2 separate regions of the Homo sapiens genome follow, and region 2 is linked to region 1. The links come from fine-mapping of genetic effects on gene expression. A gene starts in region 1. The other region holds a variant in brackets. All regions are shown on one strand. Distances are from middle to middle.

Region 1 (5,382 bases):
TCTAGTCAATTGCTAATCATTTGAAGACATCAGCCAGTAGAAGGGCATTAGCCAACATCATTACATAATGTCAAAACAACTGATCAAGTTTGTGAATCCAATGAAACAGTCAAACCAGTTTAGGAATTTCATATACACAAAACAATAGATGAGTGACTTTTAGCTTTTTAGCTTGATATAAAATTTTTAAACCCTACCATTTATAAATGTGTAAGCATTTGGCACACCCTATGCCAAGTGTTTTATCTACTTAAACCTTGGAAGTATGTGTTCTCACTTCCATTTTAAAGATAAGAAGACTGAGGCTTAGTGAGATATACTAATCTGCACAAGACTACATGTTTAGGTTCTATGAGTGGCAGGGTGAGGTTTAAACACTTGTCTCTCCAACGTCCACTCCATGCTGTTTGCCTCTGTGTATGTAACTTCAAACAGCCAAAATGGCCAAGTAAGGCAAGAAAATAAAAAAATAAAAAACAAACAAGTGAAAGGCCTGGGTCCTGAATCATGCAGTTAAGATAGCCAAGACTCAGCTGATCCACAATTGTCTAATTCTGCCCATATCCGTCCAGCTACAAACCAAGTCTGCGACCTGATACCTGAGTCCTGGGAGACCTCTTGACCCCCATGTGATACCGCTGTAAGGACTAGGACTCCAATTGCCAAACATTACACATCAGAACAAATTTTATGTGTTCCATTATGCCTGTGAACAGATCTGATTTCTTAGTCAAATATTATTTTTTTGAATATTTTCAGGCATAGACTGAGTATGTGGTTCCCTTGTGGCCAACTCAAAACATATAGCAGAGAGTAATCCTTTGCACTATCCTATATTAATATTTTCTTTCCCTCCTTGTAATGGAACTAGTTATAAATTAGATGAGATTAAAAAACAGTCTCTTGAGAATTAACATTTTAAGGAATTACCTAGAAAGAGCTGAGGTGTTTTTTTTCCCCACATGGTAAATCATACAGAGTAGCAGCCTGCCCCAGATCCCCGGAGACAACATCTTGAGCGCATATGTTATGCTGGGTTCTGTATTGACTAATTCAAAAACTCCAGGGCAAAAGAACCCAAGTTCCCAAGTTAAAAATGAAAGTAAAATAGTGGAATGGAATTGGGATCATTGTTGCAAGATTCCAACAACTTCATAAATAGCCATTAAAGTAGACAGCATGACAGGTTAACAGATTTACCATTGTAAGAATCAACCTGCACTGTTGGTGTGAAGTCGCAAACAAACCCATCTACCTCTCACTTTACGGATATTCTGTTTTCTCAGAAATAGAATCACATTTGACAAAATTAATATTGAGATCATTTTACTAGAAGGCTTATCCAAATATATGCCATATTAAAAATAGTCATGATATAAATATTTCTCACAAGAGCTGCAGCGATGGCGTGAATAAAAAACTCCCTTCTGAGATTTCAGTAAAACCAGATCTCACAAAGGATCTGAAAGAAAACAAAAAAGAGAAAACAAACAAACAGACACACACAAAGAGACACACACACACAGAACAAACCTTATGTTAATCCGGTTTAGCATAACAGTGACTATTTTGACACTATTTTATGAAGTACGATACTATTCCTTCCCAGATGAAGTAAGAGAAATGAATCGGCTACAGGTTTCTCATGATAATGTTCAGGGCTGGGGGTATCTAAGCATGTTCAGTAGCAGCTAAAAAAATCAAAAATTCTAAATGCAGCAAATGTTAGCACTGTCAAATGGCCAAGCATGCAAGAGGAATCTCTCTCTCCATGCCCTTCTACAAATACATGCAAAGCCCCAAATCCACCGGCTGGAATTTTTAAATCGTAAATTAGATATCAAAATGCTTACGGGCCTTACAATGAGATAACATCAGGAGGAACGGTGCGTGGAATGGATCTGGCATTCTCACATAAAGCATTATCTTTGGTACAAGTACACACGGCAGGGCATTTTGGCTTCGCTGGTTTCTTCCCCTCAGTCAGCAAAAGCGCAGATAAGAGACATAGGAAATAAGCAATTCTTTTCAGGGGAATGCAGGCATTTCCCATCCTTTTGCTTCTTTCTGATTCCATGCAGTCGAGAAAATATCCCCAACCATGAACAGGGCTTCTGGAATTCAGATGGTGATTGTCTTGCTCTAAGAACAGGTCACATAGGAGTCCACCCTTTTCCTCTGCCTCTGTATCTCTGCTTTTTCAAAACAGAGACCTGCAGCTGATTCGTGAGCTTCTCCTCGCTCCAGCAATGCACTGCTCGGGGGAAGAGACCTGTGAGGTACTGTGAGATGGGAGGGATCCAACTGCTGGAGGAGAGAGCCGACTTGCATCACCACGAAAACACTGAGCACAGACCAGCCTTCGAAGGCAAAGTGAAGTGATGTCACAGAAAATAAACAGCTTTCTGCTTTCACCGGGAGGCCCTTTAATTGTTACCAAAAATAGGACGGCATTATGTCTTATTAGTGAGTGGGTGGGCGGGTGGGTGGGAGCAGTCATCTTGCATAGGATGTCGGCAATCTCAGAAACCTCTGGGAGTCTGCTTTTCATGTAGCAAACAACCTAGTAAGAAAAACTAGCTTTGGAGCCAGCCCCGGCTGGAAAAAATGAAGCTAAATGAAACTCTCTCCACAATATTGGGCTAAAACCTTTTGATGTTTCTTGCTGAGCCTACCTGGCTAATGCCATCAGTGAAAGACAAATCAGAACAGATGAAGAATGTGACTTTCAGGGGATGAATGTGAGTACATACTTTTCTGACACTTATTAACTGTCATGAATGATTGATTTTCCTATCCCCCTGGGTCCCCCACGTAATTCATTCTCTCCTTCCATGACAAGGAAGGGAAACAGAAGTGCGGGACCCTCTCTGTGTATAATCCACCTCCCTCTCTTCTCCCACCCTCCCTTCTTTGGCAGTAGCACCAGAAGCCTGGAAGGAACTCCCTGCCAGCAGGAGGCGGCCAGCTCTAGCTTCCTGGGGCTTTGAAAAAGGCCTGGCTCAGCCCCGAGGCTGTGACATGGTGGGGGAAATGCTGGACTGAGAACCAGACACCTGGCTTTGAGAACGCAGGTCTGCTGTGAACTTGCTGAATCTATTCTCCTGTCTGTAAAACGGGGATGATAGTAAAGACATTCTGGAATTAAATGAAAATGATAGGCTATGTTACTCGTGTACTTGATGTGAGCGGATGGGCCCTTGGAAAAGAAAATTCATTTAAAGAAGCAATCAAGAGCCCCTGGCCTTGGGGTGGGATAGTTTAGTCCAAGAGAGTAGGAAGACCCTTGGGATGGAGGAAGATGAGGAAAACAGACCCCCGGTTATCTCACTATGGCGAAGGCGGCCATCCTTCAAGCTGGCACGAACAGCCTGGGATATCAGTCCACGTTCCTTTCTCCTCTAGCTTCTTAGACTGAAAGTATTAAAAGGACTGCTTGAGCAAAGGCGATTTTGACATAACCTCATTCTGCATCAGAGCTGAAAGCATTGCCATTCTACCCTTTCGCTCATGTAGCTGGCCCCATGCTAACTTCAATCCCTTGTTCAGTTCTCTGTAAACTCTTTGCGGGGGACAGTGCCATTCACGTGCATTCTCACATTTGATAACTGTCTGTTTACCCCAGAAGATTGCAAGGTCCACGAGGTTAGAGACCCCGCTAGGGAACCCAGGGCCTGTGTAGCATTGTGCATGTAGTGGGCAACCTGGATGGCTATGCCAGCAACAGCAGAGTGTACAGTCCATTCATGGTCATGCCCAGCCAAATAAACTTACAGTTGCACCTTGCAGTTCTAATAAAGAGATCTAACCTAGTCAAGGAAGTCAGGGGCCAATTCCCTGAAGTAGCAGTGATTGAGCTGAGTTCAGAGGTAAGGAGGAGTTACAGAGAGGGTTCGTGAGAACACTCCAGGTAGAGGGAACGGCATACATAAAGTCTGGCTCATGATCTGCAGAGCAATGGGACACCTCTGTAGAATCAGGCAGGGGAGTGATATTAACTGGTTTGTGTTTCAAAAGGACCAGTAGGTTATTATCACTAAGTCAGTTTTTGTGGGGTTGTAAATACTGTGTGTTGTTTTTTACGGAAGGGAAAAAGAAAAACTCTTCGTTGACAAGAAGTCATGATTTTAAAGTGTATTCTACGAATGCTTCACTGTCAAGGACTCTGTGGAGGAGGGAATGGAGGGCAGTGTTTTTAGAAACTGTGACCTCTGCGCAAGCCTCACTTTAAACAGTAAAAGTGTCACTTAAAAGTTGGCTGCAAGTCGGGTTTTTGTAAATTGAACCCTGCTTCAAGTGCCTAGTGGAAACTTGCTCCGTAAAATAATTATGTGGTAAAAGTTTTATGGAGGATTGTTTTTATTCAAAGTCACCCTCTAAATCAACTGACTTGTAAATGATGTGTTCTGTAACTACAAAATGAAGACATCGAGAAGATTCAGGGACCTCAAAGATCCTGGATTCGATCCCTGCATATTACAGATGGAGAAACCGAGGTACAGAGAGGACACACAGAGACCACCACTCTGCATGGGGTAAGCCCCATGGCAGAAACTTGGTTACAATGACTAATGTAATCCATCAGGCTAAGTCACTCCCTGTGTTTCACTTTCAAATGTTTCAAATCATGAAGATTGCTTGACTAGCTGTTGGCTTTGTGGTATGAAGACACAGCCGAAGAAAGGGTGAGCGGTCTTTTTCTTTTGACTTGGTAAAGCTAGGAAGGCAAATGAATGAGGGGAAGAAATCATATCCATACTATTCACTTTGCAGCTGTATTTATCTGGCAGTTCAGTTTGTCAGTTCAAGGGGGAAAAGGACCATTGGGGAGGGGAGGGGAGGAGAAACTCTAAGGACAAATTACAATGGGCATTCTGAAAAGACAGTAACTTTTTATTTTTCTATGGCATTTAAAACCCAGACTTGAATTCTTTATTCAATTAAAAACACCCACTAAGGTCAGACAAAATTTAACCATGTAATGCAGGATGCTGGCGGCCTTTTTGGGAGGAGAAACCACTTCCTGGCTCCAGAATTGGATCTGAGGAGAGACTCGGGGAGATGAGGGCAGTTCGCTGCATTGAAGTCTTGAGAGGCCTGAAGAGGAGGCCCCATTGCTGATAATGCTTCCCATCTTACTGCTCCAGGAAGCCCCAGGGAGCACAGAGATGATGTAGGAAGCAGGAGGTGGAAGCTTAGGGGTTTCCACCATCTTGGAGGCCTTCAGATAAGGTGTGGCCACCCACTTGTGGATCACAATAGGGACCCTGGGGAGAGGGGCTTGGAAAGGATTAAAGCAGAGTTGGAAGGAGGCCCAGGGAAGCCAGGAGGCCTAGCTGAGGCAGGCTCAATGCCCAGTCTGAGCTGTAGAGGAGTAGCTGA
Region 2 (5,382 bases), 46 kb after region 1:
TGACTATTGTTTAAGTTATTATTACCTTCTTGCTTTGTGGGTGATTCATTTACTTCTCTAATTGCTGGTTGAAAGGTGCCTGGAATCTGCCTTGAAGGGATTCAAAATTTTTCCTTTATCTCTACGCTGGGGTTTGGGGCCTAGTCTTGCAGCCTAGTTCACATTTCAGCTCAGTTACTAGTTGTGTGACCATGGAAAAGGTAGAGGTGACTGAGTTGGGGCATCAGTTCCAACTGATGGCAGGCGCCTAAGAGGGGCCTCTGCTCTGTCTCAGAAGTGGGGTTAGTTTGGAGCAGAAGGTAAGAGTTCAGTTTTTGTCATATTAAGTTGGAGACAGCCATGAGGAGATGTTAAGTGAGGAGGTGACTATGGGAGTCTGGAGCTCAGTAAAGACGTCTGGGCTGGAGGTATTAATATAAACTGGGACACATTGGCATGCAGATGGTCCTTTGAGCCATGGAAATGGCTGATAGCATAAGATAGAAAAGAACAACCAATCCCAGCCCCACAGAACAGCAGGGGCCTGAGAAGGCAGTCTCTGAAGAAGAGAACTGAGTGTGGGGACATGGAGGCCGAGAGGGACTACTGGCCTTACTCTTGCCCTCTAGCCACTCCCTGTCCAGTAACCTGGGGTCAATTCAGCTGCTACTTAATTTTTGCCATGTGAGAGGGCAGCACCCTATACATAATGGTTCTGGTCATACACAGAATGTTTTCAACAGCAGCAGCACGACAGCATGCTTCTTCTTCTTCTTCTTCATTATTATTATTATTATTATTATTTGAGACGGAGTCTCCCTCTGTCACCCAGGCTGGAGTGCAATGGTGTGATCTCAACTCACTGTAACCTCCACCTCCCAGGTTCAAGTGGTTCTCCTGCCTCAGCCTCCTGAGTAGCTGGGATTACAGGCGCATGCCACCATGCCTGGCTAAGTTTTGTATTTTTAGTAGAGACGGGATTTCACTATGTTGGTCAGGCTGGTCTCAAACTCCTGACCTTGTGATCCGCCCACCTTGGCCTCCCAAAGCGCTGGGATTACAGGTGCGAGCCACCACGTCTGGCCGACAGCATGCTTATTGTCAGAAATTTTGCTAAGTAGGATAGGATGCATAAGAACACTGCCAAGTAAAAAGCAAATCTGCACTTAGTGAGGACAACCTTTTATTTAAAAAGATTACTACAGGAGAGAAAGGGACTATTGCAGTAGGGGAAGTGTACTATTGCAATGGGGAAAATACTGAGACCTTAAGAAAGGGACTGTCTCTTGAACAGAGAAAAGTAACCAAGGCTAAAAACAACAGGGTGTGGGAAAAGGGAATGAAAGGGTGGCCTGATGGGATAGTAGGCCATACAATGTCTTACTCTGAGGCCAGCCTGTTCTCAGGATGGGCTGTGTGCTGGCTCAGGCTGGGAGTGGGGGTGGGCCAAAGTGCAGGGGCTTAGGGGAAGGAGAGAAATTGAATCAAAGTTTGGTTAACAAGCATTTTGTTCAATTGCTCAGTGGGGACAAGCAGTTCAGCTCATCATTTATCAGGTAAGGAATGAGAATTTGTTCGGTCTGTATCTAATTTTGCCATAGGTTAAACACAGGGCATCTGTGCATCTTATCTAAGTCATATGAGAAAGAGTCGTTCTGATGCAGAGCAGATGAGTCCCAAAATTGGGGCTTAGCAGGGGAGGGTTCTTGGCTGCACCCAGGAAAGAATTCAAGGGTAAGCTGGTGGTTTTAGACAGCAACTTTTATTGACACAGCAGGTTCCAGCATTGGCAGCAGCAGCAGAGGTACCAATGGCAGTGTGCCCAGAGTAGCAGCTCAAAGGCGAGTCTGCAGTCATATTTATACCCACTTTTAATTACATGCAAATTAAGGGGCAGATTATGCAGACATTTTTAGGAAAAGGGTGGTAGTTTCCAGGTCATCAAGTTGTAACTGAAAGGGGCTGTAACTTCAGGGTGTTGCCATGGCAATGGTAAACTGACATGGCACACAGGTGGGCGTGCCTTACGGAGAGGTGCTTCTGCTCTGTCCCTCTTTTAGCTAGTCCTCAATATGGTCCAGTGTCCAAGCACCACCTCCAGAGTTGAGTCCCACCTCCTACCTCAGTTTTTTGCAGTAAGCTGTTTTCTAGAACGTGCAAAAAAAGGTTGGTGTGGGGGGATGGGAGGGGTTTACTTTACCCATCACTGTCTTCCAGGAGCAAAGGGCTTCAGTGAAATTCAATATTGTCAACGTGCTCTGGGATGTGAATTCCATCCCTCCAGTCTGGGTGACACCTTCATCTTCTCAACCAGCACTGATATTCCTGCCCAGGAACTTAAGAACTGCCCCTTGCTGTGGTCTGGGTCTCAAGGCTCTTTTCCTGGGAGCTTAAGACTTTTGACTTTTCCCTTGAAGGTGTCCACATGCCTCCATGCCTGGCTTACCTGCAGCCTGTCTAACCCCCAAGAGATGCATCTGAGACAGCGTCATAACCTCTGCTTCCAAACCACCATCGCTAAAGGCACAGTCCTGAGGGAAATGAATCATCGCCTTGGAAATTTGCAACCTATGGGCTGAATTCAGCTCACAGAAGTGTTTTTTCCACAGGGTGTTTTGCTTTGATTTTTAAACTTGAATTAGATGCCTATATAAAAAATCAGGATATTGAATCTAAAAATCCAAATTTCTAAATCTAAAAATCCAAATTTCTAACTTCTCCTGAAAAGTAGATTGCTCCAGCAGTTCTGGCCTGTGTTTCTATTGTATGCTCCTACACTGTTCAACAAAAGTTCTGACAATAAAATTTGTTATTTAAAAAGTTCTATTTATGAATACAAGTATT[T/ACTTT]GAGTGCTGTTACTTTTATACAGCCTAAGTGAGGAGGAGTACAAATTCCATCTTCTAATCACCACTGTTCCGTGAATCTATTCAGTCTTTTATATTTTCTGTGGGTGTTTAAGTATTTCTATTTCCTACCACCAATTGTCACTTTCAGTACTAGGACAACTAGCCAAAGAGATTTTAGTTTCGGATAATTTGTTAATCAAGGCATCATTTAGAAAAATTACTTACTGTTTATTTCGAATTGCCTGACTACATAATAATCATGACATGTATCCTTAAACACATGACCTACTTCACTGTACATTTTACTTGATCATCCCAGCACACTGTCTGCATGGTCAACTTGGTGTTCATAAACTGTGAAATCATGTGATATGGTCAACTCCTACTTGGAGCTTGCTTATACCTTATATAGAGAGAGGGGCTGTGGGGCATCACTGGTGAGTGTGGGAGGCCTGAAAGGAAGTCCTATATCTCCCTCTCCTTTGGACGCAAAGGCAGCACAATTTGGAGCCCAGAGTTAAACTGTGGTTTCAGCATTGTGAACACAAGTGTAAAGTCCTGTCTCTGAAGCCTTTTCCTGCTCTCTCTTAGGATTAGGGGCTCCTCCCTAGTGTCCCCATAGCTTTCTGAGCCTGTTCCTATTACTGCCCACCCCATTGTATTGTAATTACTTGTTTCTGTGTCTGTGTCCTACCTAGAGGTGAGTCTTGAAGATGGGAATGATGTCTTTCCCATGATTATAGCCCCAGGCCCAGCGAGGCCTTGAGGAATGATCTAGAGACACAGCACTCTTCAACCTTGATTATTACAGTAGGTCTCCCCACTTTGCATTTTCCTAAGTGAAGCATGAAACCGTCATACCTGCAGATATTATATGACAGAAAATAACAGCATCAGTTTCCCGGTGATGTTTAGCATTCCTGGTTTCTGCCTCTCATCTCATCTGACCCGGTAAGTGTCTCCCTATCTCTTAATCACAAGGCTCCTTATCCACAACTGTCTCAGAGAGGGGTTTACCAGACATCCTGTCTCTGTTCTCATCTCCTGGGAGCAGGCCAAAAATGACAATCAATTCATTTGGCTAATTGGTATACTGCTGTCTCTCCACTTTTGCTTCCCAATGTCCATTCCAGGCACAGAATTTGTGCAGTGCAACCTCTCTGGCAGCCTGCTCCAGCCATTTCCACAAGCAAGGGCTTGACCTTTGGCCAGCTTGCAGATCACTATTGGGCTGTGTCTCTATTCAAGGACCGAGCTTTACCATGCAGGTGTGGAGCTACCTTCTTCCAGATCTGAGCTTATAAATATACAGAAAGTGCAGGCTGACCTTGCCAAGTGTTCAAGGCCCGGGAACTTTCAGTCCTTTGGATGCTGACTAGAGTCTTTCTCAGCATTTACAGAGCTCCCGCAGGCCTCTGTCTCAATGCCTACAGGAAATTTGTCTTTGAGTATGTAAGCACTTCTGTGGCATAATTTCCAAGGCCCCAGAAAATTCCACCTATCCACTTCCTAATCTGTTCTTTCACGCCTGAAGTTGCTTAAATCACCAAAACTTCCATTTACCAAAGTTTTAAAAACCCCTAGGAGCAATTAAGTTTTTTAATGTAAACTTTTTATTGACTATAACACTCATACATAAAAGTGCACAAATTATGGTTGTGAATGAACCACTCATGTAACCAATACCAGGACCAGAAACAGAACTTTGCCATGTCCTCAGAAGCCACCCCTTCTTCCTTGTATCCCTTTGTAGTCCCTTCCCCTCCCTCATCAGGGAAACCACTATCCTAACTTGGAACAAGATAGATTACTTTTGTTTGTTTGTTTGAATTGGCATATACAATTATAAGTATTTACCTTGTACAACATCTTGTTTTGAAGTACATATACAATGTGGAATGACTAAATCTAGCTAACTAATATATACATTACCTCACATAGTTGTCATTTTGTTTATTTGGTTTTGTCTTTTATATAAATGGGATTTGTTGTATGTACTCTTTTTCATATGTAATGCTTCTTTTGCTCAGCTCAATACTCATGAGATTCATCCATGCTGTTGCACGTAGTTGTAGTTTGTTGATTTTTATTGCTGCATAGTATTCCACTGTGCAAATAAACCACCTTTTACTTAACTATTCTAATGCTGATGGACATTTGGGTTGTTTCTGGATTTTTATATGCAAATAGAGCTCTTATGAACATTCTTGTTCAGGTCTTTCAGTGAATACATATACACTTCTCTGTTGGAAATACATTGAGGAGTGGAATTGATGAAACCTAGGATAGGCACGATCAGCATTAGTAGGTACAAGGTACTATCAAACATCTTTTCCAAGGTAGCTGTACCAATTTACACTCCCATCACCAGCATATAAGAGTCACAGTCATGCCACATCTTCTCCAACACCAGATTTGTATTTTCCATTTAGCCATTCTGATGGGTGTGTAGTGGTAGTGGTGTGCTTACTTGATATTTATCTGATAACTAGTAAAGATGCGTGCTTTGTTTTATGTGCATTGGCCATTTGGCTATCTTTCGTCTGTGTATTTTCTGGT

Which allele goes with the higher level. Alleles are on the strand shown, and positions count from the first base shown. SD is a standard deviation of normalised expression in the study named.
With allele T in place of ACTTT in region 2, the expression in tibial nerve of the gene that starts at base 2,286 in region 1 is higher (small effect, 0.26 SD a copy in GTEx).

Evidence for each region. PIP is the estimated chance that this variant, and not a neighbour inherited with it, causes the effect.
Region 2: its variant is the best candidate, but not a certain one, in a credible set for the expression of LGI1 in tibial nerve (GTEx, PIP 0.64).

Annotation. Positions count from the first base shown.
Region 1 is chr10:93,754,840-93,760,221 of GRCh38, reverse strand. It overlaps LGI1 (leucine rich glioma inactivated 1), which reads right to left and starts at 2,286. Exons shown (of 8, transcript NM_005097.4): 1 at 1,863-2,286; 2 at 1,391-1,462. The coding sequence starts at 2,077. It overlaps LOC101927013 (a long non-coding RNA gene), which reads left to right and starts at 2,505. Exons shown (of 3, transcript XR_246160.5): 1 at 2,505-2,741.
Region 2 is chr10:93,709,181-93,714,562 of GRCh38, reverse strand. No RefSeq gene overlaps it. Among named protein-coding and RNA genes, the nearest start is that of FRA10AC1, 9.3 kb to the right of the region's middle. RefSeq lists a silencer at 1-78. The variant T/ACTTT (reference allele first, on the strand shown) is at 2,824.